Homo sapiens: one gene and its partners. The protein of the gene in region 1 purifies or fractionates together with the protein of each later gene. This does not show direct contact. Each region holds a gene or a part of one and is shown in the gene's direction. Other genes may lie near its edges.

What was found.
Region 2: the proteins of ACSM5 (region 1) and MCCC1 purify together in Homo sapiens (affinity purification with mass spectrometry; 2 studies listed by BioGRID and IntAct, with this or other methods). This does not show direct contact.
Region 3: the proteins of ACSM5 (region 1) and ACAD10 purify together in Homo sapiens (affinity purification with mass spectrometry; one large-scale study listed by BioGRID and IntAct). This does not show direct contact.
Region 4: the proteins of ACSM5 (region 1) and NLRX1 purify together in Homo sapiens (affinity purification with mass spectrometry; one large-scale study listed by BioGRID and IntAct). This does not show direct contact.
Region 5: the proteins of ACSM5 (region 1) and MIPEP purify together in Homo sapiens (affinity purification with mass spectrometry; one large-scale study listed by BioGRID and IntAct). This does not show direct contact.
Region 6: the proteins of ACSM5 (region 1) and CYP24A1 purify together in Homo sapiens (affinity purification with mass spectrometry; one large-scale study listed by BioGRID and IntAct). This does not show direct contact.
Region 7: the proteins of ACSM5 (region 1) and MTG2 purify together in Homo sapiens (affinity purification with mass spectrometry; one large-scale study listed by BioGRID and IntAct). This does not show direct contact.

Annotation. Positions count from the first base shown.
Region 1 is NC_000016.10:20,419,534-20,423,033, forward strand, and holds part of ACSM5 (acyl-coenzyme A synthetase ACSM5, mitochondrial), read left to right. Parts: exon of another isoform or gene 1-249; intron 250-1,724; coding exon 1,725-1,868; intron 1,869-3,500. UniProt on the Homo sapiens protein: Catalyzes the activation of fatty acids by CoA to produce an acyl-CoA, the first step in fatty acid metabolism.
Region 2 is NC_000003.12:183,014,718-183,017,107, reverse strand, and holds the end of MCCC1 (methylcrotonoyl-CoA carboxylase subunit alpha, mitochondrial isoform 1 precursor), read left to right. Parts: intron 1-1,541; coding exon 1,542-1,670; 3' UTR 1,671-1,890; downstream 1,891-2,390.
Region 3 is NC_000012.12:111,689,053-111,692,552, forward strand, and holds part of ACAD10 (acyl-CoA dehydrogenase family member 10), read left to right. Parts: intron 1-3,500.
Region 4 is NC_000011.10:119,175,225-119,178,724, forward strand, and holds part of NLRX1 (NLR family member X1 isoform 1 precursor), read left to right. Parts: coding exon 1-50; intron 51-3,500.
Region 5 is NC_000013.11:23,729,689-23,732,400, reverse strand, and holds the end of MIPEP (mitochondrial intermediate peptidase), read left to right. Parts: intron 1-1,955; coding exon 1,956-2,053; 3' UTR 2,054-2,212; downstream 2,213-2,712. UniProt on the Homo sapiens protein: Cleaves proteins, imported into the mitochondrion, to their mature size.
Region 6 is NC_000020.11:54,171,187-54,175,329, reverse strand, and holds the start of CYP24A1 (1,25-dihydroxyvitamin D(3) 24-hydroxylase, mitochondrial isoform 1 precursor), read left to right. Parts: upstream 1-1,343; 5' UTR 1,344-1,750; coding exon 1,751-2,008; intron 2,009-2,230; coding exon 2,231-2,421; intron 2,422-3,659; coding exon 3,660-3,753; intron 3,754-4,143.
Region 7 is NC_000020.11:62,193,028-62,196,527, forward strand, and holds part of MTG2 (mitochondrial ribosome-associated GTPase 2), read left to right. Parts: exon of another isoform or gene 1-309; coding exon of another isoform or gene 310-393; coding exon 394-597; coding exon of another isoform or gene 598-651; intron 652-1,849; exon of another isoform or gene 1,850-1,986; intron 1,987-2,774; coding exon 2,775-2,922; exon of another isoform or gene 2,923-2,926; intron 2,927-3,500. UniProt on the Homo sapiens protein: Plays a role in the regulation of the mitochondrial ribosome assembly and of translational activity. Displays GTPase activity. Involved in the ribosome maturation process.

The DNA of each region.
Region 1 (3,500 bases):
ATCAGAGAGGAGCACTCCCATTGGCAGCCAGGCTGACCTGAGCATAATCCTGGTCCCTACCTTAATGTTCAAGGTCCCTCATTCAGTCAGTGCTGGATTTGTCAGCAGCTTTTCTGTGCTTCATTTGCTTCTATAATGCGGTGGTAGTTATTAGAGCTACCATTCAGAGTACATGAAATAACCAATATGGTGCATTTAGCACATAGCAGGTGGTCAGTTAATAATAAACTAGTGGCCATGTATTGGGTACTTAGTGTATCGCTAGATACTGTGCTATGTAAGCCTTCACCTTCATTCATTCATGCAGCGAAGATTTAATGAACATCTATTTCACGACAAGCATTGTGTTTGGTGTTCAGAACACCATAATGGATCAAACATCACCTTATTTAATCCCTGAACAGGACATTGTGATGGGCCCTTTAACCCAGTTTTACAGATGAGGAAACTGAGACTTGGAAAACTAAAGTGACTTGCCCAAGGTGCTAAAAAGTAGTCAAGTCAGGAGTGGGCAGAGCCGAGAGCAGATGTGCCTTGGAGCAAGGGCCTGGTGGAAACCCATCTCAGAATTTGAGACTTTGTCCTGATTGGAAGCCAGAACCCAAAAGGAGCCTCTCAGGGGCCTGAACCATTGAGTTATGAATGCTCACCCCACAGACCAGCTGCATCAGATTCACCTGGCTGCTGTTTTGAATACAGATGACAAGGCCTCACATCTGACCTACTTAACCAGACACAGCTGAGCAAGAGCCCTGGGGATCTTTTTTAAAAAAATCAGCCCATAGGGCCAGGCGCCATGGCTCACGCCTGTAATCCCAGCACTTTTGGAGGCTGAGGCAGGCAGATCACCCGAGGTCGGGAGTTTGAGACCAGCCTGACCAGCATGGAGAAACCCCGTCTCTACTAAAAATACAAAATTAGCTGGGCGTGGTGGCGCACGCCTATATTCCCAGCTATTTGGGAGGCTGAGGCAGGAGAATCACTTGAACCCGGGAGGCAGAGGTTGCAGTGAGCCAAGATCCCGCCATTGCACTCCAGCCTGGGCAACAAAAGCGAAACACCATCTCAAAAACAAAACAAAAAAAAATCGGCTCATATGATTTTGAGAGCTGTCAGGTGGGCCTAGATCAGTGGTTCTCAATTTTGGCTGTTACTAGAATTACTGAGAAGCATTTAAGAAAACATTAAAGATTCTGATTTTATTTTGTTCAGGGTGGATACAGACAAGTTTCTTCCAAAAATTTACCAGGGGACTTCACAGTGCAGCCAGGGATGAGAGCCCGTGGATTAGCTGATCATCCAGATCACAGAACTTTGGGAATTACCTAGATCTCAAAACCCCATATTGGGGGAAACCTTTAGAAAAGAGTTCTAAATTATTAGAAATTGGGATGGGGGTGGAAGCTGTGCCTAAATGTGCAGAATTATAGACATGGACATGTGTGTGTTCTACCAGAAAGTCCTCATACCTTGGTAAGAAAGCATGGACTCTTTTGCGTGAATTATTTATCTATTTTGAGCCTCAGTTTCCTGGTCTGCAAAAGGGTTATAATGATAGTACCTACCCCATGAGGTGGTTGCAGATTACCCAAGCCAGAGCTTTCAGCACAGCACCTCACATGTGGTATTTATGAAACGGTAGTCATATTGTTGTTACACATATTATTGGTGCTACTAACTGTTTTTACCGTGGTAGTGCCACCTAGTGTATTTACGTTTTACAGGGAGGCTTCTACAGAGCACAACTGCATGAGGACAAAGAGTCGAGACCCGCTGGCCATCTACTTTACCAGCGGAACCACCGGGGCCCCCAAGATGGTCGAGCACTCCCAGAGCAGCTACGGACTGGGTTTTGTGGCCAGCGGAAGGTACCAGAGCAGCTTGTCTAGAGGATCCAAGAACAGAAAGTGGGGAGTGGTCTGGAGGGGGTGGTGTGAGGGGAAAGGTGTCAGGAACGGAGGTCAGAGAGCCAACAGAATTACTGAGAAGCCAATAGGAGCAGCTTAGGAAGGATCTTGATGGTTCTGGATTTTACTCTGAGTGAGGTGAAAAGCCATGGGAGGTTTCTTTTTAAATCGTGGCTATATATATATATATATATATATATATATATATATATATATACACACACACATATATATACATACATACACATATAAACATATATATACATATATCATAAATGTACCCTTTTAACCATTTTAAGTGTACAGTTTAATGTCATTAAATACATTCACATTGTTGTGCAACCACAATCACCATCCATTTCCAGAATTTACTTTATCTTTCCAAATGAGAACTGTGCCCCCATTACCCAATAACACCCCATTACCCTCTCCCCTCACCCCTGGTAACCTCTATTTTACTTTTCATCTCTGTGAATTTGATACTCTAGGTATTTCGTGTAACTGGCATCATGCAGTCTGTCCTTTTGTTTTGCAATTTGGCTTCTTTCACTTAGCATAATGTCCTCAAGGTTCATCCGTGTCATAGCATGTGTCAAAATTTCCTTCCCTTTTAAGACTGAAAAATATTCCATTGTATGGATAGACCACATTTTATTTATTTTTATTTTTTATTTTATTTTTATTTTTTTGAGACAGAGTTTTGCTCTTTTGCCCAGGCTGGTGTGCAGTGGTGCGATCTCCACTCACTGCAACCTCTGCCTTCCAGTTTCAAGCAATTCTCCTGCCTCAGCCTCCCAGATAGCTGGGGTTACAGGTGCCCGCCACCACACCCAGCTAATTTTTGTATTTTTAGTAGAGACCGGGTTTCACCATGTTGGCCAGGCTGGTCTCGAACTCCTGACCTCATGATCCTCACGCCTTGGCCTCTCAAAGTGCTGGGATTACAGGCATGAGCCACTGCACCTGGCCTCGACCACATTTTAAATAATCCATTCACCTGTTGATAGACACTTGGGTAGCTTCCACATTTTGGCTATTGTCAATAATGTTGCTATAAACACTGGCATGTGAGTATCTGTTAGAGTCTCTGCTTTTACTTCTTTTGGATATACATGCAGAAATGAAATTGCTGGATCATATGGTAATTCTATGTTTAATTTTTTTTGAGAAGCATTGGGTATTTTGAGCAGAGGAGTGACATAATCTAATATGTTTTTTAAAGGCTCACTCAGGATGTTGGGTTGACAATGTAACTGTAGGGGAAACAGGTAAAGAAGATGACCAGTGCATTAAGAGGCAAGCATGGTAGCTTGCCCGGGGAGCAGTAGTGGGAGAAGAGATGAGATTCTGAATGTATTTTCAACCTAGACCCAATAAGGCTTGCTGACAGAATCAGTGTGGAATGAGAAGGAGGAGTCAAGGAGAGCTCTAAGAGGAATGGCCTGAACAACTGGAAGCACTAAATGATGGGGGAAGAACTGTGGGATGAGCTGTCTGGTGGCAAGAAAACAGTTTGTTTATGGAGTTGTCAATTTGAGAGTCTTCTTAGAAATCTCCATCTCCTTGTTAAAAGTGGAGATGTTGAGTGGGCAT
Region 2 (2,390 bases), on another chromosome or scaffold:
TAGAAAAGAGTTTTACTTTAACTTTGTGAAATTGCACCTGTCATTTCTGATTCTGAAATTAATGAAATTATCAATAGCTTGGAATCAGGCGATAATCCAACTGAATGTTAACTGTTGGTATTTTCTAAGATAATCCAACTGAATGTTAACTGTTGGTGTTTCTGGAATGTTAACTGTTGGTATTTTCTAATGTTAACTGTTGGTATTATCTTGGTTCTAAGGCCGAACCAAGGATGCCAGGCATCAGTTTCAAAGTGAAAACCGCAATCAAATTAAATTAGCTGTTTAGGTTTTTAGATGGTTCAAATGGTAGGTCAGTGATTCTTAGCCCTGGCTGAATATTGCAGACAGTCCTCAACTTACAATGGTTCAATTAAGGATTTTTCAGCTTGACAATGGTGCAAAACCATACACGTTGAATATGCTCCTCAGCTTACATTGGATTTATCTGGACCTGACCCCATCGTAAGTCAAGGAGCATGTGTACAGTCACCTGGGGAGATTTGAAAAAATTCTTCCCCAGACCCATTGAATTGCAATCTCCAGGAGTAGAGCCCAAGGATCAATACTTTTGAAAGGCTGGGCGCAGTGGCTCATGCCTGTAATCCCAGCACTTTGGGAGGCAGAGGCAGGCGGATCATTTGAGGTCAGGAGTTCACGACCAGCTTGGCCAACATGGTGAGACCCCATCTCTATTAAAAATACAAAAATTAGCCAGGCATGGTGGTGCATGCCTGTAATCCCAGCTACTCAGGAGGCTGAGGCAGGAGAATTGCTTGAACCTGGGAGGCAGAGGTTGCAGTGAGCCGAGATCTTGCCACTGCACTCCAGCCTGGGTGACAGAGCGAGACTCCGTCTCAATTTAAAAAAACAAACAACAAGGCCAGGCGCAGTGGCTCACGCTTGTAATCCCAGCACTTTGGGAGGCCGAGGTGGGTGGATCATGAGGTCAGGAGTTCAAGACCAGCCTGGCCAACATAGTGAAACCCCGTCTTTACTAAAAATACAAAAATTAGCCAGGTGTGGTGGCACACACCTGTAGTCCCAGTTACTTGGGAGGCTGAGGTGGGAGAACCGCTTGAACCCGGGAGGCAGAGGTTACAGTGAGCTGAGACCATGCCGTTGCACTCCAGCCTGGGTGACAGAGTGAGACTCCGTCTCAACAGCAACAACAACAAAAAACAAAAAAAAAAAAACAAAAGCAAGCAAACAAAAAACTGTTGAAAGCTTCCTAGGTGCAATTCTCATGTGAAGCTCAAGTTGAGAACTGCGAGCTACACCAGAGCTTCCCAGTCATATCGTTGAAAGGTTACTGCTGTGTCCCAGTGTTCATTCCTCTCAACTTGTTACTGTTCTCCCTGTGTGCTGTGATGTTAAAAATAAAAACAACAACAACAACAAAGCGTTGGAAAGCACCGAGAGATGACAAAACATCAAAGTTGGCTACAGTTTTCATTTTTGGTCTCCCTTTCTTGACTTGGTGTATACTCAGTCCTCATTAGTATTGCAGCTATCATTTGTCCTGTCATGTGTCTCTGCAGCATACCATAAAGTCTCCAAAGGATGGCACAGTAAAGAAAGTGTTCTACAGAGAAGGTGCTCAGGCCAACAGACACACTCCTTTAGTCGAGTTTGAGGAGGAAGAATCAGACAAAAGGGAATCGGAATAAACTCCAGCAAGGAAATGGCCAGTTAAGTAGTGTCTTCTCTCTCCACCAAAAAGAGGAAGTGCCTCCAGCTTTTCTGGGGGTCTCATAAAGAGCAGTTTTACTAAATGATTGTATGCTTATGCTGAACACCTTTCATATTGGAGAATCATGCATTTGGGTCACTAATTATCTCAAAATATTTCATACTAATAAAGTTGAATTATTTTTTATTGGAAGCCAATGTTTGTTTCTGCCTCAAATTTTTTACAAGGTAGTCTCTTTTAGGAAGGGGGGAAGAGAAAAGGACATTTAATTAAATGAATTACTTTCCAGTTGCTGTTATGATGAAAATGAGCAGTAATATGTTTCAGAGACAGGTGCCCTGGAGTTCAACAACTAAGGTTTTGTCTGGCCAAAAAGCAACTTGCTAGGTAGTTTAAAAGACATGGATATTAGTCGGGCGCGGTGGCTCACGCCTGTAATCCCAGCACTTTGGGAGGCCAAGGCGGGCAGATCACTTGAGTTCAGGAGTTCGAGACCAGTCTGGCCAATATAGTGAAACCCGTCTCCACAAAAAATAAGCTGGGTGTAGTGGTGAACATCTGTAGTCCCAGCAACTTGGGAGGCTGAGGCAGGAGAATCGCTTGAACCTGGGAGGCAGAGGTTGCAGTAAGTCGAGACCGCACCACTGCACTCTAGCCTGGGTGACAGAGCGAGACTCTATCTCAAAACAAATACATA
Region 3 (3,500 bases), on another chromosome or scaffold:
TGGTGGCACGCACCTGTAATCCCAGCTACTCGGGAGGCTGAGGCAGGAGAATCGCTTGAACCCAGGAGGTGGAGGTTGCAGTGAGCTCTGATCATGCCACCGCATTCCAGCCTGGTGACAGAGGGAGACTCCATATCAAAAAATATATATATTTAATATATATATCAAATCATATCCATATCAAAATATATAAATATATATACATGCATATATATGTATGTATACCTAAAACAGTGTAAGTACTGTGTAAATAAATAGTTGTTAACCTGTATTTTTTGTTTGCATTTTTTATTGTTGTGTTGTTATTTTTGTTGGTTTTTGTTTGTTTTTGAGATGGAGTCTCACTCTATAACCCCGGCTGGAATGTGGAGTGCAGTGGTGCAATCTTGGTTCACTGCAACCTCCACTTCCCTGGTTCAAGTGATTCTCATGTCCCAGCCTCCCGAGTATCTGGGATTACAGGTGTGCGCCACCACGCCTGGCTAATTTTTTTTCTGTGTTTTTAGTAGAGACGGGGCTTCACAATGTTGACCAGGTTGGTCTCGAACTCTCGACCTCAGGTGATCCGCCTACATTAGCATCCCAAAGTTCTGGGATTACAGGCGTCAGTTACTGTGCCCTTACTGTGTGTGTTTGTTTTGTTTTGTTTTACTTCAAATATTTTCTTCTTTTTTTTTTTTTGAGATGGAGTCTCACTCTGTTGCCCAGGCTGGAGTCCAGTGGCACCATCTCGGCTCACTGCAAGCTCCGCCTCCCCAGTTCACACCATTCTCCTGCCTCAGCCTCTTGAGTAGCTGGGACTACAGGTGCCCACCACCACGCCCGGCTAATTTTTTGTATTTTTAGTAGAGATGGGGTTTCACCGTGTTAGCCAGGATGGTCTCAATCTCCTGACTTTGTGATCCGCCCGCCTCGGCCTCCCAGAGTGCTGGGATTACAGGCGTGAGCCACTGCACCCGGCCTTACTTCGAATATTTTCTATTGTAGTTGGCTGAATCTGCAGATGTGGAACTCACAAATACAGAGGGCTGACTATAGATGAGAAACACATTATATTCAAGATTTACCACTTAAGAGTCCTTTCTCTAGGTGCTTATAGAGGTTGAGTATCCCTTGTCCCAAATGTTTGGAACCAGAAGTAGTTCAGATTTTGGATTTTGATATATCTGCGTATATATAATGAGATATCTTGGGGTTGGGACCCAAGGCTAAACATGAAATTCACTTATATATATATGTTTCATATATATCTTATACACCTAGCCTGATGGTAATTTTATACAATATTTTAAATAATTTTGTGCATGAAACAAAGTTTGTGTTAAGTACTTACGTGTGGAATTTTTCATTGTGGCATCGTGTGGGGGCTCAAAAAGTTTTGGATTTTGGATCATTTCAGGTATCGGATATTTGGATTAGGGATGCTCAACCTCTACAGTTTTTTAGTCCTAGCTGGGCGCCGTGACTCACACCTGTAATTCCAGCACTTTGGGAGGCTGAGGTAGGTGAATCACCTGAGGTCAGGAGTTTGATACCAACCTGACCAACATGGCGAAACCCCATCTCTACTAAAAATACAAAAATTAGCCAGGTATGGTGGTGCGTACCTGTAGTACCTGCTACTCGGGAGGCTGAGGCAGGAGAATCACTTGAACCTGGGAGGCAGAGGTAGCAGTGAGCCAAATTCGTGCCACTACACTCCAGCCTGGGCAACAGAGTGAGACTCTCAAAAAAAAAAAAAAAAAAAGAGTTTCTGATTTTGGAGCATTTCAGATGTCAGATATTTGGATTGGGGATGCTCAAAGTATATAGTTTTGGAGTCCTTTTGGCCCCACTGAATGACTCCTGTAAACTCAGATGCTGTCTTACCAACCTGTTTTGCACTCTCCTGATTTTTAGTAAGCTTTTTAACTGTAGAAATCACATAAAAAGCTTAAAGATTTTCATGAAGAAAATAGAATTTGCCTTCATTATTTTGGTTTTTTTCCCCATCTTTTTATTTCAAGCTTATAGAAAAGTCAAAAGAAGTTACAGTGATCTCCCGTTATACCTTTCATCTAGACTCACTATTAATGTCTGGCCATGTTTGGTTTTCTCTATACACGAGTGTATATAGGTATGCATCTGTATACGTGTACATGTATGTATGTGTGTTGTGTGTGTCTTTTTTTTTCCTGAACCTTTTGAAAGTAAGTTTGAGGAACAGTTACCAGGCTGCTGCAGTGATCTGTAAGTGGAAATGATGGTGTTTTGTGGTGTGAGGGTGTCATCGTAAGTGCTAGGAGGAGGCGAGTACAGGACATCTTAGGTGCATACAGGAGAGACTCCTAATGAGTCTTTTCTGGTATCCCCAAGAGGCTTCATGAAGACAGTGACTGGTAAACTGCAACCCAAAGGACTGTTTGGAATTAGCCAGGCAACAGGTGGAACAGAGCATTGCAGAGGAGAACATGCGTTTGAGGAAACTGCATGTAGATGTGTATGTCCAGATCATCCCAGGTTGAGATGAAAAAATGGGGAGCTGCTGCAGAAAGGAATGAGATTTTTTTTTTTTTTTTTTTGAGATGGACTCTGGCTTTCTCACCCAGGCTGGAGTGCAGTGGCACAATCTTGGCTCACTGCAACCTCTGCCTCCCAAGTTCAAGCAATTCTCCTACCTCAGCCTCCCAAGTAGCTGGATTACAGGCACCCAACACCATGCCCAGGTTATTTTTGTGTTTTTGAGTAGAGATGGGGTTTCGCCATGTTGGCCAGGCTGGTTTCCCAACTCCTGACCTCAGGTGTTCTGCCCATCTCAGCCTCCCTAAGTGTTGAGATTACAGGCGTGTGCCACTGCGCCTGACGGGAGTAGATCTTTTAAGCCAGGCTTAGGAATTGAGATTTTATTTTAAGGGCAATGGGGAGCCATTGAAGGTGTTGTTTGTTTGTTTTTTGAGATGGAGTTTTGCTCTTGTTGCCCAGGCTGGAGTGCAATGGCACGATCTTGGCTCACTGCAACCTCTGCCTCCCGGGTTCAAGCGATTCTCCTGCCTCAGCCTCCTGAGTAGCTGGGATTACAGGCATGCGCCACCATGCCCGGCTAATTTTGTATTTTTAGTAGAGGTGGGGTTTCTCCATGTTGGTCAGGCTGGTCTCGAACTCGCAACCTCAGGTGATCCACCCGCCTTGGCCTCCCATAGTGGTGGGATTACAGGAGTGAGCCACCACACCTGGCCCAGATTTACAATTTTTAAAGAATACTCTGACTGGAGGGTGAAGAAAGAATTGGAGAGAGGTCTGAGAAGAGGCAAGGGGGCCAGTTAGGATCCATGGGCAAGATGGTGGCAGTGAGAATGCAAAGAGGTAGATGAGATTTTCAGGAGAAAGACTTGACAGCACAGAACTAGATAGGGCGAGGTGAGGTAGAGATTGCAGAAAGTCAGAGGCGAGTCCCAGCTTTCTAGCTTGGGCAGCCGAGTGGGCGATGGAGCCCTTGACTAAGTAGCCAGGGAGGGAGGAGA
Region 4 (3,500 bases), on another chromosome or scaffold:
CCAAGCTGCTGCCTCTGCGGGCTCTGCCTCTGCTCTTCAACCTGATCAAGGTAACATCCCGATCAAGGTAACCCCCCAACCTGCTCCTTCCCTCCCCAGCACCCCAAGCCGCCCACGCCCCCACATGGTTCCCTGTTCACCCCTTGCTCCTCTCCCAGCAGGAAACTGCTGCTTCCTGCAAAGGTATGAATCTTCTCCCTGGATCTGGTTTCAGCTCTGAGCATTTTGGCTTTTAGTGGGATTGCAGAGAGAGAAGCCACAAGGCTGGGGAAGGCTTGGTGGCTGGGGAAGGGAACCTGGGGACGTGGGGACTTTAATAATAATGCTACATGGATTCCTAAAAATGGTTTCCTTTTTGTGTCTTTCCTCCTAGGAGGCAGGCCTATCCTCTGCTTTGCAGGTCCAGAAACTCGATTGTGTCTGCTCCTCCAGAGGTGATTAGGCTCTGAGAGTGATGACTCATCCTAACTAAATCACCAGAGACGGGTTTATAAAGCAGATGCCATTTTATTCATTTATACTAGGAAGATAAATGGCATTGGTAATTGGCTTAGGGGAGTCATCATGAGGGCAGGTCCACTCCAGAAACCAAATTACAGACCTGAGGACTGTGCTGTGAGTGGCACAGCTGAGCGAGGTCTTTGAGGGCTGGAAGGAGCCACTCTGTGTGATGTGTGCCAGGCGCGTTATCAGTGTTCATCCTTTTGTTTTTCACATTACTCCTGGAAAGGAAATACTATTATGATCCCTTTTATAGATGAATAAACTGAGGCTCAGAGAGGTAAAGTAACTTGTCCAAGATCACTCAAATAGTAAGTTTAAAAGCCCAGGGCTTTGTGATTCTGAATCCTGTGCTCTTTCTGCCAAACTATACTGGTGCATTACGGATATGTCTGTCGAGCTGTGGGACCTTGCTAGGTAACCTTTGTTTTCTCTAGGAATGTTTCAGCAACGCATTTTGAGGAGGCAGAGTGCTGGTTAGTGCTGGCAGAATTTCAACACTTTTTAAAAATTTAAATGTATTTTTATTTTTATTTTTTGAGACAGAGTCTTACTCTGTTGCCCAGGCCTAGAGTGCAGTGGTGCAATCATAGCTCACTGCAGCTTCGACCTTCTGGGCTCAAGCAATCCTCCCACCTCAACTTCACTGAGTAGCTGGGACCTCAGGCATGTGCCACCATCCCCAGCTAATTTTTAAAATTTTAATTTTGTAGCCGGGTGCAGTGGCTCACGCCTGTAATCCCAGCACTTTGAGAGGCGAGGCAGGTAGATCACCTGAGGTCAGGAGTTTGAGACCAACCTGGCCAACATGGTTAACCAAGTGTGGTGCCGGGTGCCTGTAATCCCAGCTACTTGGGAGGCTGAGACGGGAGAATTGCTTGAGCCTGGGAGGCAGAGGTTGCAGTGAGCCAAGATTGCGCCACTGCACTCCAGCCTGAGCAACAGAGACTCCCTCTCAAAAATAAAAAAATAATAATAACAAAATTAAATTAAATTAAAAAATAAAAAATTTTTAATTTTGTAGAGATGGGGTCTCACTAGTGATCCTCTCACTTTGGCCTCCCAAAGTGCTGGGCTACAGGTGTGAACCACTGTGCCCAGCCAACTTTTTATTTTTATAGGCACCAAAGCATAAGGGCTAAGAACAGGGATTTGGTAACTCAGCTATTTGAGTTCAAATCCAGGCTCTGCTACTTATTAGCTGTGAGACTTTGGACAGGTTACTTAGTTCTGTGCCTCAGATTCCTTATCTGTGAAATGGAGATAATACTAGAACTTATATCACTGGCCTAATATGAAGATGAAATGAACTCATCCTCAGGGTCTAGGACATGGTAAGTGCTATTTAATTGTTTTTTGTTTGTTTGTTTTTTTGAGATGGAGTCTCGCTCTGTCGCCCAGGCTGGAGTGCAGTGGCACCGTCTCTGCTCACTGCAACCTCCACCTCCCGGATTTAAGTGATTCTCCCAGCTCAGCCTCCCAAGTAGCTGGGACTACAGGCACCTGCCACCATGCCCGGCTTATTTTTGTATTTTTAGTAGAGACAGGGTTTCTCCATGTTGGCCAGACTGGTCTTGAACTCCTGACCTCAGGTGATCCACCCACCTCAGCCTCCCACAGTGCTGGGATTACAGGAGTGAGCCACCACGCCCGGCCTATGCTGTTTAATTGTTTGTCACACATAGAAACAGACTTAGTTCCAGACCAGCCTGGCCAACATGGTGAAACCCCATCTCTACTAAAAATACAAAAATTAGCCGGGTGTGGTGGCACGTGTCTGTAATCCCAGCTACTCGGGAGGCTGAGGCAGGAGAATCTCTTGAGCCCAGGAAGTGGAGGTTGCAGTGAGCTGAGATCGCGCCACTGTACTCCAGCCTGGGTGACAGAGCGAGACTCTGTCTCACAAAAAAAAAAAAAGAAAAAAGAAAGAAACAAAGAAACAGGCTCGGGCAGCCCACCCCTTCTCACACATCACCTCCGACAGGAGGTCACAGCTGCTGCTGAGGCCACCCCGCCTTGAGGATGTGCCTGCCGGACCTGAGTTGCAACGAGAGGCTGCAGTCTCCCGAGGGGATTCAGAAAGCCCCCAGTTATTGAAAACCCAGCAGAATTGTCAGCCCTGCACCCCCAAGCCCTCTTGGAGGGAGGGTTGCCCTGGCAGAGCACTGAGCCCATCTGTTTATTCACCATCCTGTGGATTCAGCTTCACAGGGTGACATATTCTGTCACAGGTTGGTGTTGGAGAAGGGGCACTATCACCTCTATGAGAGTAACCTCACATATAAACATGAAAACAAGCCAGGTGCAGTGGGGCACACTTGTAGTCACAGCTGTCAGGAGGCCAAGGCAGGAGGATCGCTTGAGCCTAAGAGTTAAAGGCTACAGTGAGCTATGATCACACCACTGCACTCCAGCCTAGGTGACACAGCAAGACTCTGTCTCTAAACAAATAAAAATTAAAACATTAAAAAGTAAAAAAAACCCAGATGTTAAAGGACGTGCCACAAAACAACGTCATGGTTTGTTGCCAGAGGAATGACCCTTCTTCCCTTTCAGAACCATTGCAGGAATGGGGGAAGATATCACAAACCCCCAACATTTATTTCTTTGTCAGATATTTGAGTGCCTGCTGTGTGCCAGGCAATGTGTTAGAATCTGAGGAAATGTCAGTTAACAAAACTACAGGTTTCAGCCCTTTCTGATCTAGTCTGAGCTCCTCTCCCAGAAGGAAACTGCTACTTCCTGCACAGTTTGAGCACAAAAATATCAATGTAACCATATAAGGAAAAATTACAGCAAATGCCTGGGAAGAAGGAGCCCCAGATGCCATGAAAGTGTATAGTGGGGGAACTGGTCTGCGGGGTCAGGAGAGCCTCTTTGTGGAAGGGCATGTCGTCTGACCCTTGTAGCATTAGCCAAAGGAAGAAGTTGGGGGAGGGGAAATGCCCCAGGAAAGGGCAGCACCCTGGAGGCTTTTTTTTTTTTTTTTTCTCTTGAGA
Region 5 (2,712 bases), on another chromosome or scaffold:
GTTTAGTTTCGTAAGACACTGGTTAAGACCTTTTTTCAAAGTGATTGTATCATTTTATCCTTTCACCACAAATGTATGACAATTCAGGTTGCACACAGCCTTGTCAACATTTGGTGTAGCACAGTGGCTCACGCCTGTAATCCCAGCACTTTGAGAGGCCAAGGCAGGAGGATCGCTTGAGCCCAGAAGTTCAAGACCAGCCTGGGCAACATGACAAGACCCCATCTCTACAAGAAGTTTAAAAACTAGCTGGGCATGGTGGCACACACCTGTGGTTCCAGCTACTCTCAAGCTGAGACGGGAGGATCACTTCAGCCTGGGAAGTCGAGGCTGCAGTGAGCCATGTTCACACCACTGCACATGCTGTGTTGTCCAGGCCTGGACAACAGAGCAAGACCTTGTCTTTAAAAAAAAAAAAAAAAAAAAAAAAAATTAGCTATTCTGGTGGATGTGTAATAGTATCTCATTGTGGGTTTGGTTTTCATTTCCCTAGTGACTAATGATGTTGAATGTCTTCTCAGTGCCTATTAGTTGTGTTACTTATTCAGATATCTTCTGTGAAAAACCTGACCTTGTGAAGGTAAAATCTTTTGTCAATTTGTAATTTAAAAAAACATATTTTTACAATGGGTCAAAGGAGTTCTTTATATTTTCTGGATACCAGTCTTACGTGAGATATGTTTTGTGAGTATTTTTTCCAACTATCATTTGTCTACTCATTGGCTTAATGGTTTCTTTTCAAGAGACATTTTAAATTTTGATGAAATCTAACATTTTTTCCTTTTATGCATTGCTTTCTGTGTCCTAAGAAACTATACCTACTTCAGGGTCACAAAGATACTTCATGCGGTTTTTTTAAGATAATAATTTTAGTGTTTACACTTAGGTCTGTGACCATCTCAAATTAGTTTTTATGTATGGTATGCAGTAGGAGTCAAGGCTAGTTTTCTGCCGTATGGATATGCAGTTCTGCCCAGCCGACTACTCTCACTCTTCATGTTGTGACTGAGCCTGCCCACCTGTATGCCCATGACCTGGCCTGATCCTTTACACACAACAGATGCTTCCTTCATGTTCACTGAATTGCAATACAGGTTCAGAGAACAATAGAGGATTCCTGCAATCTTTTAATGCCTTGATTTTGAAAATGGTTTTACAGAATTCATCTCCCAAAGTAAATATCAGTATATAGAGCCTGTTCAACCCTTCAGTTAGCATTTCCTGCCAAGAATGTAGGTTAAAGCAATAAGGTTAATTGCATCAATCTTTGTTTTTGGCTTCTTTAGAGTGAAGAAAGGACATGAATTCAGCTTTTTATTGAATTCTTAATATATGCTAGGCATGGTGCTTCATTGCTTCTACTACATCTTCTTGTTTGATCCTTATAGCAACCTTGTAGGAAATTTGGATGCCAGAGATTTTAAGTGACTTCTGCGTTACACAGTTACTAAGTTGCAAAGCTAGGAGTTCTCTGGGACAGGGAAATCTGGAGGAGAGCCAATAACTTGATTCTGATATAAGATTTCTATAAAAGAATTAACATCTAATTGATTGTAAAGTGTATAGAACTTGATAACAAAACTTGATATGTAATTAAACTTGTTAAATTGTGAATCATCCCAGTCAAAGATAACTAAAAAAAAATCAGTCTTCTAATATCAGTCTCTAAGGGTATAGTCATATATGCAAAAATAATAGCCCTTAGGAAATATATTTAGGCCTAAATCTCTAAGCTAAGGATGGATTTGATAGTAAAAATACATTAAAATTATAAATAGCTCCAAGGCCCACACACTGCCCATGACTTTATAAAATGTTCTTGCATTCAGGTTATACAGCCAGAGTCTTAATTCAGAAAGCCAGAGTGTTCCTCTAGTGTGTGGATTTGATTTTGTGTCTTTGTGCTTCCTGTTGCCTCCTGGTGAACGCAGTTCTGACCTTTCCTTTGTTTGCAGGTATGCTTCAGAAGTGTCCTTCTGTTGATGACTTCGTAAGTGCCCTCGTTTCCGACTTGGATCTGGACTTCGAAACTTTCCTCATGGATTCTGAATAAAAGAAACACTCTACACCTCTTAAATCAAGGTCATGTAGATAATGACTTTGTTATAAATGCTACAGCTGTGAGAGCTTGTTTCTGATTTCATTGTTCGCTTCTGTAATTCTGAAAAACTTTAAACTGGTAGAACTTGGAATAAATAATTTGTTTTAATTATTCTGGCTTTTCACCTGTTTGGCAAATATTTGAGCACATGGAAATCTCTGACCTAGTAACAACAACACTTCTACATGGCATTGTTAAATGGAGGGTATGGGCATTTCCTTAGTATAACCACTCTCCTGTTGAGCTTTTCCCTCTTTCCATGGATCTTTAATTGGTTTAATTAAATAATTAACTAAAAGCAAAATTGTTTAAGACAGAGTTTGAAGCAGTCTTCAGACAGGTTACACTTATAGTTCTTTTAAGAATGATGACCATTTCTTAAGACCACTATCTAAAGTAGGCTTAGAAAATGCACTTTAAATAGTCAATTACAGGCAACCAACAAACCAAGTGTGGTTTCCAAAATACATGTAATTATCTGTACTGTTTTTTCCTGAATGTTTAGGCAAATAGACTCAGAACACAGAGGACTGGCTTGGCAATGAAGGTAGAATGAGTAAGTGCAGGTACAATTAATAAGTGACATACCAGTGTCAAGCAACTGGTGAATC
Region 6 (4,143 bases), on another chromosome or scaffold:
TCAATAGCTATTATTTTTATTAACATAAACAGTCATTAGCCCCTCCAGACAAATCAGAAATGATGGTGTTAAAGCTTAAGTTGGACTGCAAAAGATTTTTAAGAAACAAACTAGAGGCTTACAAAAGAATTTACCAGGGAAGGATTTGCCAACACTTGGGGCAAAAATGACTGAGACACGTAATTGAAAAGCAGGGCGAGGAAACAGAATGTCCCTCCCCTCCTCCCTGGCTGGTGGTAGTTTTGTATTGGATCAGGTTGAAAGGATTCGAGCCACTTTAAAACAATCAACAAAAATCTCCAACTTCCGTTCCTGAATTAGCAAAGCGAGTTCTACTCTTGCCAGCCGCGGTAACTCTAGAAATTGTGTATGTTTGTCACTGGACCTGCCTAGGACGCACCTTGGGGGAGAGGGGGAGTACTGGGGGCGGTGGTTTCAAGCTCTGTGTGCCCCTCCTTTGCACAAGGTAGTCGGTGTAGAAGAACAGAGGCGGGCAGTGGACATAGGGGAGGTGGCCCAGCCTGAATTCAAGCATCGTTGGTGCAAGCCACGCTCTCAAGGCGCATTTCCTAACTTCCTAAAGAAGTAACAACAGCAACTAACTTTTATTGACTGTTGACTATAGACAAGGCTTCGTTGTTGCCGCTTTACGTGCATTAATTCATTTAATCTGCAAAACAACCAAACATGAAACAGCAGGAAGGAAATTCTACAAACTCCCCTTCTTGCTCAAGTTAAGAAAGTCTCCTCTTCTGGTGCATTTCAGTAAGACTCAAATCCTCCCCACCCTGGGAGGCGCAGAAAGCCAAACTTCCTCCAAAAAAAAAAAGGCAAAAAAAAAAAAAAAATCACTTCAGTCCAGGCTGGGGGTATCTGGCTCCCCGGGAGGCGCCCGGGCTCCCCGGGGCCCTGGCAGACGCCGGCAGCTTTTCTGGGCCCGCACTCGGGGACCTCGCCCGCCCGGCATCGCGATTGTGCAAGCGCCGGGCGGCAACCACGGCCGCCGCTGCCGGCTCCTGCCCGCCGGGGGAGGGCGGGGAGGCGCGTTCGAAGCACACCCGGTGAACTCCGGGCTTCGCATGACTTCCTGGGGGTTATCTCCGGGGTGGAGTCTGCCGCCCCCACCCCACCTCCCGCGCCCAGCGAACATAGCCCCGGTCACCCCAGGCCCGGACGCCCTCGCTCACCTCGCTGACTCCATCCTCCTTCCACCCCCCCTCCCCTGGGTCCCGCGTCCCTCGGAGTCTGGCCAGCCGGGGGCCACTCCGCCCTCCTCTGCGTGCTCATTGGCCACCCAGGGCATGCTCTGTCTCCATAAATGCATGGTCCCTGGGCATAGGAACATGGAGAGGGACAGGAGGAAACGCAGCGCCAGCAGCATCTCATCTACCCTCCTTGACACCTCCCCGTGGCTCCAGCCAGACCCTAGAGGTCAGCCTTGCGGACCAACAGGAGGACTCCCAGCTTTCCCTTTTCAAGAGGTCCCCAGACACCGGCCACCCTCTTCCAGCCCCTGCGGCCAGTGCAAGGAGGCACCAATGCTCTGAGGCTGTCGCGTGGTGCAGCGTCGAGCATCCTCGCCGAGGTCCTTTCTGCTGCCTGTCCCGCCTCACCCCGCTCCATCACACCAGCTGGCCCTCTTTGCTTCCTTTTCCCAGAATCGTTAAGCCCCGACTCCCACTAGCACCTCGTACCAACCTCGCCCCACCCCATCCTCCTGCCTTCCCGCGCTCCGGTGTCCCCCGCTGCCATGAGCTCCCCCATCAGCAAGAGCCGCTCGCTTGCCGCCTTCCTGCAGCAGCTGCGCAGTCCGAGGCAGCCCCCGAGACTGGTGACATCTACGGCGTACACGTCCCCTCAGCCGCGAGAGGTGCCAGTCTGCCCGCTGACAGCTGGTGGCGAGACTCAGAACGCGGCCGCCCTGCCGGGCCCCACCAGCTGGCCACTGCTGGGCAGCCTGCTGCAGATTCTCTGGAAAGGGGGTCTCAAGAAACAGCACGACACCCTGGTAAACCCCTTTTCGCGCCCCTGACTCTCTCCTCCCTCTTCCGCCCTCCCAGTGGCGCTCCAAACCCTCCCCGACATGCGCGCCTCGGGCGCATGGTGCGCTTCGGCGTCTGGGCAGGGAGGGTCCCCGGTCCCCTAGGAGGAAGGAGGCGGGAGGAGGGAAAGCGCTTCGGGCACGGCGGAGGATGCGCGCTGACACCGCGCTGTGCCCGGCCGGCTGCAGGTGGAGTACCACAAGAAGTATGGCAAGATTTTCCGCATGAAGTTGGGTTCCTTTGAGTCGGTGCACCTGGGCTCGCCATGCCTGCTGGAAGCGCTGTACCGCACCGAGAGCGCGTACCCGCAGCGGCTGGAGATCAAACCGTGGAAGGCCTATCGCGACTACCGCAAAGAAGGCTACGGGCTGCTGATCCTGTGAGTCCAATCCGAGGGACCTGGGCATGCGGCCAGACCTGATGAGCCTGACGGCGCCTGGAAATTGTGAAGAGGCGGAGTTAGAGTTCCCTGGGGTTGGAAGCTTCTTACGTAGGGCGGATACCAAAGCCCCTCTCCCGTGCCATCGCAACCCTGAGCTCTTGTACAGATTAGAGTCGGTCCACGGAAAAGCCGTGCTGTGCACCCAGCACCTGCGTTCTCTCTGGCAACAGGGCAGGGCCACACCCTCCCATCAAAGAAACGCCAAAACAGGGTTGTACCAACTGTGGTGTTCAGACTCTTGGGCAGGATGAGGTTCTGAAGTCAGCGTACCAGGCAAACATCTTATACAAACAAAATTATCCCTTAAAACTCCCTGAAACACCTTGTAAGCTCAAAAGCGAGGAGTTAGCCTCTTTGGCTTTTTACAGTGACATTTTCTGCAGAGGATTGGGGGACATGCCTTATTTCTACTTGTAAAGGTGGAATAAGGAGGGATATCAAAGTTGTGTTTTAGGTCGACAAATGCTACTATGGGATGTGATTCTTCTGCTTTTTAGTTGTTAGCATTTAACAAGTTAGCACCTTTATTTACCCCCAAACTGTAATGCCTAATCGTTATATTTTCCAGGATATAATGACTGGAATTAAAAACCCTATTAATTCACGGTGCTTCACAGGCTGTATGGTCTGCTATGGGGCAGGTGCCTACAAGTGCACGATCGCAAAAGGCTTTTTATTACTCCAGTGACTCTCTGACTGTATGTTATTATTTGGAGGCGATGGCAAAATTCTAAATCTGAGATATTTTGTAAATATGAAGCCCACACCAATGAGTTGAAAGAAGACAAGATTCTTCCCTCAAACAGATCTGAGTTGCTGGTGATGGGGTGTTCACATGCCCCCTTTTACCGCTAGGAATTGTCCCCAGGCCTCCCAGCCCCACTCCCTGCAAGGACACCTCAAAATCCCTGAACCCAAATTATCTGGACTTCAACTTTTTGGTGCAATCTTTGACTAGGAGGAAAGGTGCTTTTTCATCCTATTGTCAAACTATTGTCAAAAGATGATCACTATTTTATCCCAAATATTCTGATGCTAATATTCTCTGGCTATTTCTTGGCATGATTCTCAGTGTTTGTTTGATTTTATGGTTCCTGAAGTTGCAGCTGGAGTATTTCTGCATCTCCTTCTTTTCTTTTCAGTGTGCTCTAAATGTATTCCTGCTTCTCTCACAGGGAAGGGGAAGACTGGCAGCGGGTCCGGAGTGCCTTTCAAAAGAAACTAATGAAACCAGGGGAAGTGATGAAGCTGGACAACAAAATCAATGAGGTCTGCAGGCTGGGGCCAGCTTTCCTGGGGCTCGTGGGGACATAGGGATATTGGTGGAGCTTCAAGTCACAGCTACAAAGAACAAAGGAAAAAAGAATGCAATTCGGGTGATTCAAAGTGGGGGTCTTCTCTTTCTCTCCATTCCTTCCTACAGCCTCCTCCCCACCAAACCCTTATTTCTCCCTCCTCCACCCTCTTTTAAAGTCATATCACAATGAGGGAGCAATGGAGAGTGTGGACTTTGGTATTCTACAGCCCTGGATTTGAACCCCAGCTTTCCACTCCCTGGCTATGAGACCTGGCTATATACCACTTACCTTCCCTAAGCCTCAGTTTCCCCATCTACAAAATGGGAGTAACAGTTCCCACCCCACGGGTTTGCTGTGAGAA
Region 7 (3,500 bases), on another chromosome or scaffold:
GGATAACACTCTTGATAACATTTTAATAAATGGGTGTTTTTCTTTTCAAGAAATTTTGACTTGCACTTCAGATTTCCTTTTTAATATTTTCGTTGAGCGGAACCTTGCTATTCCATAAGAGGATGTGTCCAGTGTTGTGGAAGATTTCATGTTTTAAATCCTTTGTACAGAAATCCTGCTCCCAAGTCACAGATAGGCTGACGGGTCAGAGGGCAAGACGTGACCCAGGGCCGAGAGGGTGAGTGACCAGGAAAATCGGATTCATCAGTTCACTTGTTTGTTTCAGAAACGTGCACAAAGACCTGCTGCATGAGGCCCTCGTCTTCAGTTTCTGTTTCATGCCCAGCATTAAACCAAGTATCTCATTTTGCCAATTTGACTTCTGTAGGGGCCATGGCACCTGCAAGGTGTTTCTCAGCAAGATTGAGGACCGTGTTTCAGGGCGTGGGGCATTGGGCTTTGTCCACATGGGCTGGCCTGAAGCCCAGCCGGCTACTGCCACAGCGGGCTTCTCCCAGGCTGCTCTCGGTCGGCCGTGCGGACCTCGCCAAGCATCAGGAACTCCCGGGGAAGAAGCTGCTCTCTGAGAAAAAGCTGGTGAGACTCCTGGAGTTAGAGCAGCTTGCCTGTCTCCTCCTCAGAAGGCACAGGGTGTGGTTTCGGGTCCTCCTCTGGGTCTCATCTCTGTTGATGTTAGTTGATGATCTTAGTGATGGGGCACGTGGAGCTTCTTGAAAATGACAGGGTGAAACGCAGGCCTGCGTGCTAAATCCCACGCTCAGCAAATCCCAGCAGGCTGGGAGAGGCGCTGCGTGCTTGGAAAGCCGTGATACAGGCTGCTCATTTTCCCATGAGCCTGTGTATTTTACATGTATGTTACATATATCCTTTCATATGTGTGGCTATTTCTTAATTTAAAACAAATGCGGAGGCTGGGCACGGTGGCTCATGCCTGTTATCCCAACACTTTGGGAGGCTAAGGCAGGCGGATCACTTGAGGTCAGGAGTTCGAGACCAGCCTGGCCAACATGGTGAAACCCTGTCTCTACTAAAAAAAAAAAAAAAACCTTTTTAAATTAATAAATAAATAAAAATAAAACAAGTAGGGGGGAATATACCTTCCGTTTTATGGTTCTTTAAGCCTTATAAGTTTTTCTTGTTCTATTTACCAAAACCTCCTATTTAAAGCATGAATTGTCTCTAATAAATTCAAGAAAATGCACGTTTATGACTCCCTTCGTTTCCTGCTGAATGGAGGGGCTCCAGATAAGCATTACTGGGACAAACAGCACTTCCAGTGGAAAAGCCGCTTTGGTGGGATGTGTGCTCAAATAGCTGAAGCGTTAGCACAGGCTTGTCTCCTCCCCAGGAGAGAAAGTGAGTCGAGGTTTTGTCCTCCACGAAGTGCTCACCAGTGGGGCTTTCCTCCCTGTCTGGTGGATTTTGCTTGCGTTGGCGCATGACAGCATTACACATTGAAATTTGGAAATAACAGTTCGTGGTTTTCCCACATGGTGGTGCCAAAGAATCTTAGAATGTTTGTGTTTTAAATTTTTAAATTTTTTTTTGTGTTTAAATTTTTGTGTTTAAAAATTTTAAATGTTTTAAAATTTTCTTTTAAAAGAAAAAAAAACTGCATTTGAGGAGTATTGGATCGGAGTGCAGAGGCAGCAGCCCTGGGTGGCTGTCAGGGGCAGGGCACGTCTGTCTGTGCACGTGGGCAGAAGCCAGGTGTCCTCCCCAGCGTGTGGTGAGGTTGCAGCACCCTGGGCTGCGGGAGCTGACCCTCCTGTGGTAGGAGCTGTTGTGTGTTGAACAGTAACCTGGTTGGTTCTCTCTCTTCATCCAGATTGCACCTACCTTAGTGACCTACAGAACAGCTTTCCTAGCCGGGCACAGTGGCTCACGCCTGTAGTCCCAGCACTTTGGGAGGCCGAGGCGGGTGGATCACGAGGTCAGGAGATCGAGACCATCCTGGCCAACACGGTGAAACCCCGTCTCTACTAAAAATACAAAAAACTAGCCGGGCGCAGTGGCGGGTGCCTGTAGTCCCAGCTACTTAGGAGGCTGAGGCAGGAGAATGGCATGAACCTGGGAGGCAGAGCTTGCAGTGAGCCGAGATCCCACCGTTGCACTCCAGCCTGGGCGACAGAGCGAGACTCTGCCTCAAAAAAAACCACAAAAAACAAAACAGCTTTCCCTCCAGCGAGGGGCTCTGTTTGCCTCACCACATTTTTTAAATGAGCCCTGTTTTCATCAGGCCCCAGAAAATACTCTTTCTTCAGAGTCGAAAGCCTGGTAATTGTCCAGGAACGATTCTAACTTCCTATTTCTCTATCGCATCCTGGGAAACTAGAACTTTCTAAGAGTAAAGATCTATGATTTCAGGAATGGTTTTTTTGAATGGAAAGACACATTATATAAGGAATATTTCCTAAACAAGATGTGGGTTTTTTAGCTTAGAAATGCTGATTTTTGTTGTTGGTTTTTAAATCAGTCTCACCCAGAGTAAGAAATGCTGAATTTTTGAAGTGTAGGTCCACACAGAATACTTACATCTGCATTGTGGATTTACCTCAGTCTACAAATGCAACTGACTTGTGGAGACTGTTTTTTATCTTCGGAATTTAGAAGTGATTAGCAATATTAGTGTCATTAACCTCTAATTTTAATAGGCTGTTATAGATAGAAGATGTACATCTCAAATGGATGCATGGTGTCTTGAAAGGACCTTGGAGTGTTGAGATGACGTGGGATATTTGTGTTCTCTGTAGAAAAGGTACTTTGTGGACTATCGGAGAGTGCTTGTCTGTGGAGGAAACGGAGGCGCTGGGGCAAGCTGCTTCCACAGTGAGCCCCGCAAGGAGTTTGGAGGCCCTGATGGAGGGGACGGAGGCAACGGTGGACACGTCATTCTGAGAGGCAGGTGCCCTGGGGCAGTGCAGCGGGGTTGAGGAGGGGCCCCGAGACTGCATGTGCATTTGAACTAAAAACCTGATGTATGGGCAGGCACAGTGGCTTATGCCTGTGATCCCAGCACTTGGAGAGGCTGAGGCAGGAGGATCACTTGAGCCCATAAGTTCAAGACCAGCCTGGACAATATAGCAAGACCATGTCTTTTTTGTTTGTTTGTTTTTTTGTTTTTTTTTTTTTGCCTCAAGGTTTGTGGATCTACAAAAAATTTTTGAAAAAATTAGCCAGACATGGTAGCGTGCACCTGTGGTCCCAGCTACTCAGGAGGATTGCTGGATCCCAGAAGTTCAAGGCTGCAGTGAATCGTGATCACACCACTGCATATTCCAGCATGGGTGACAGAGCAATACCCTATCTCTAAAAAAAAAAAAAGTAAAATTTTTAAAACCCAGCTAGGCGCAGTGGCTCATGCCTGTAATCCCAGAACTTTGGGAGACCGAGGCGGGTGGATCGCTTGAGGTCCGGAGTTCGAGACCAGCCTGGCCAACGTGGTGAAATCCTGTCTCTTAAAAAATAATAATAATAAC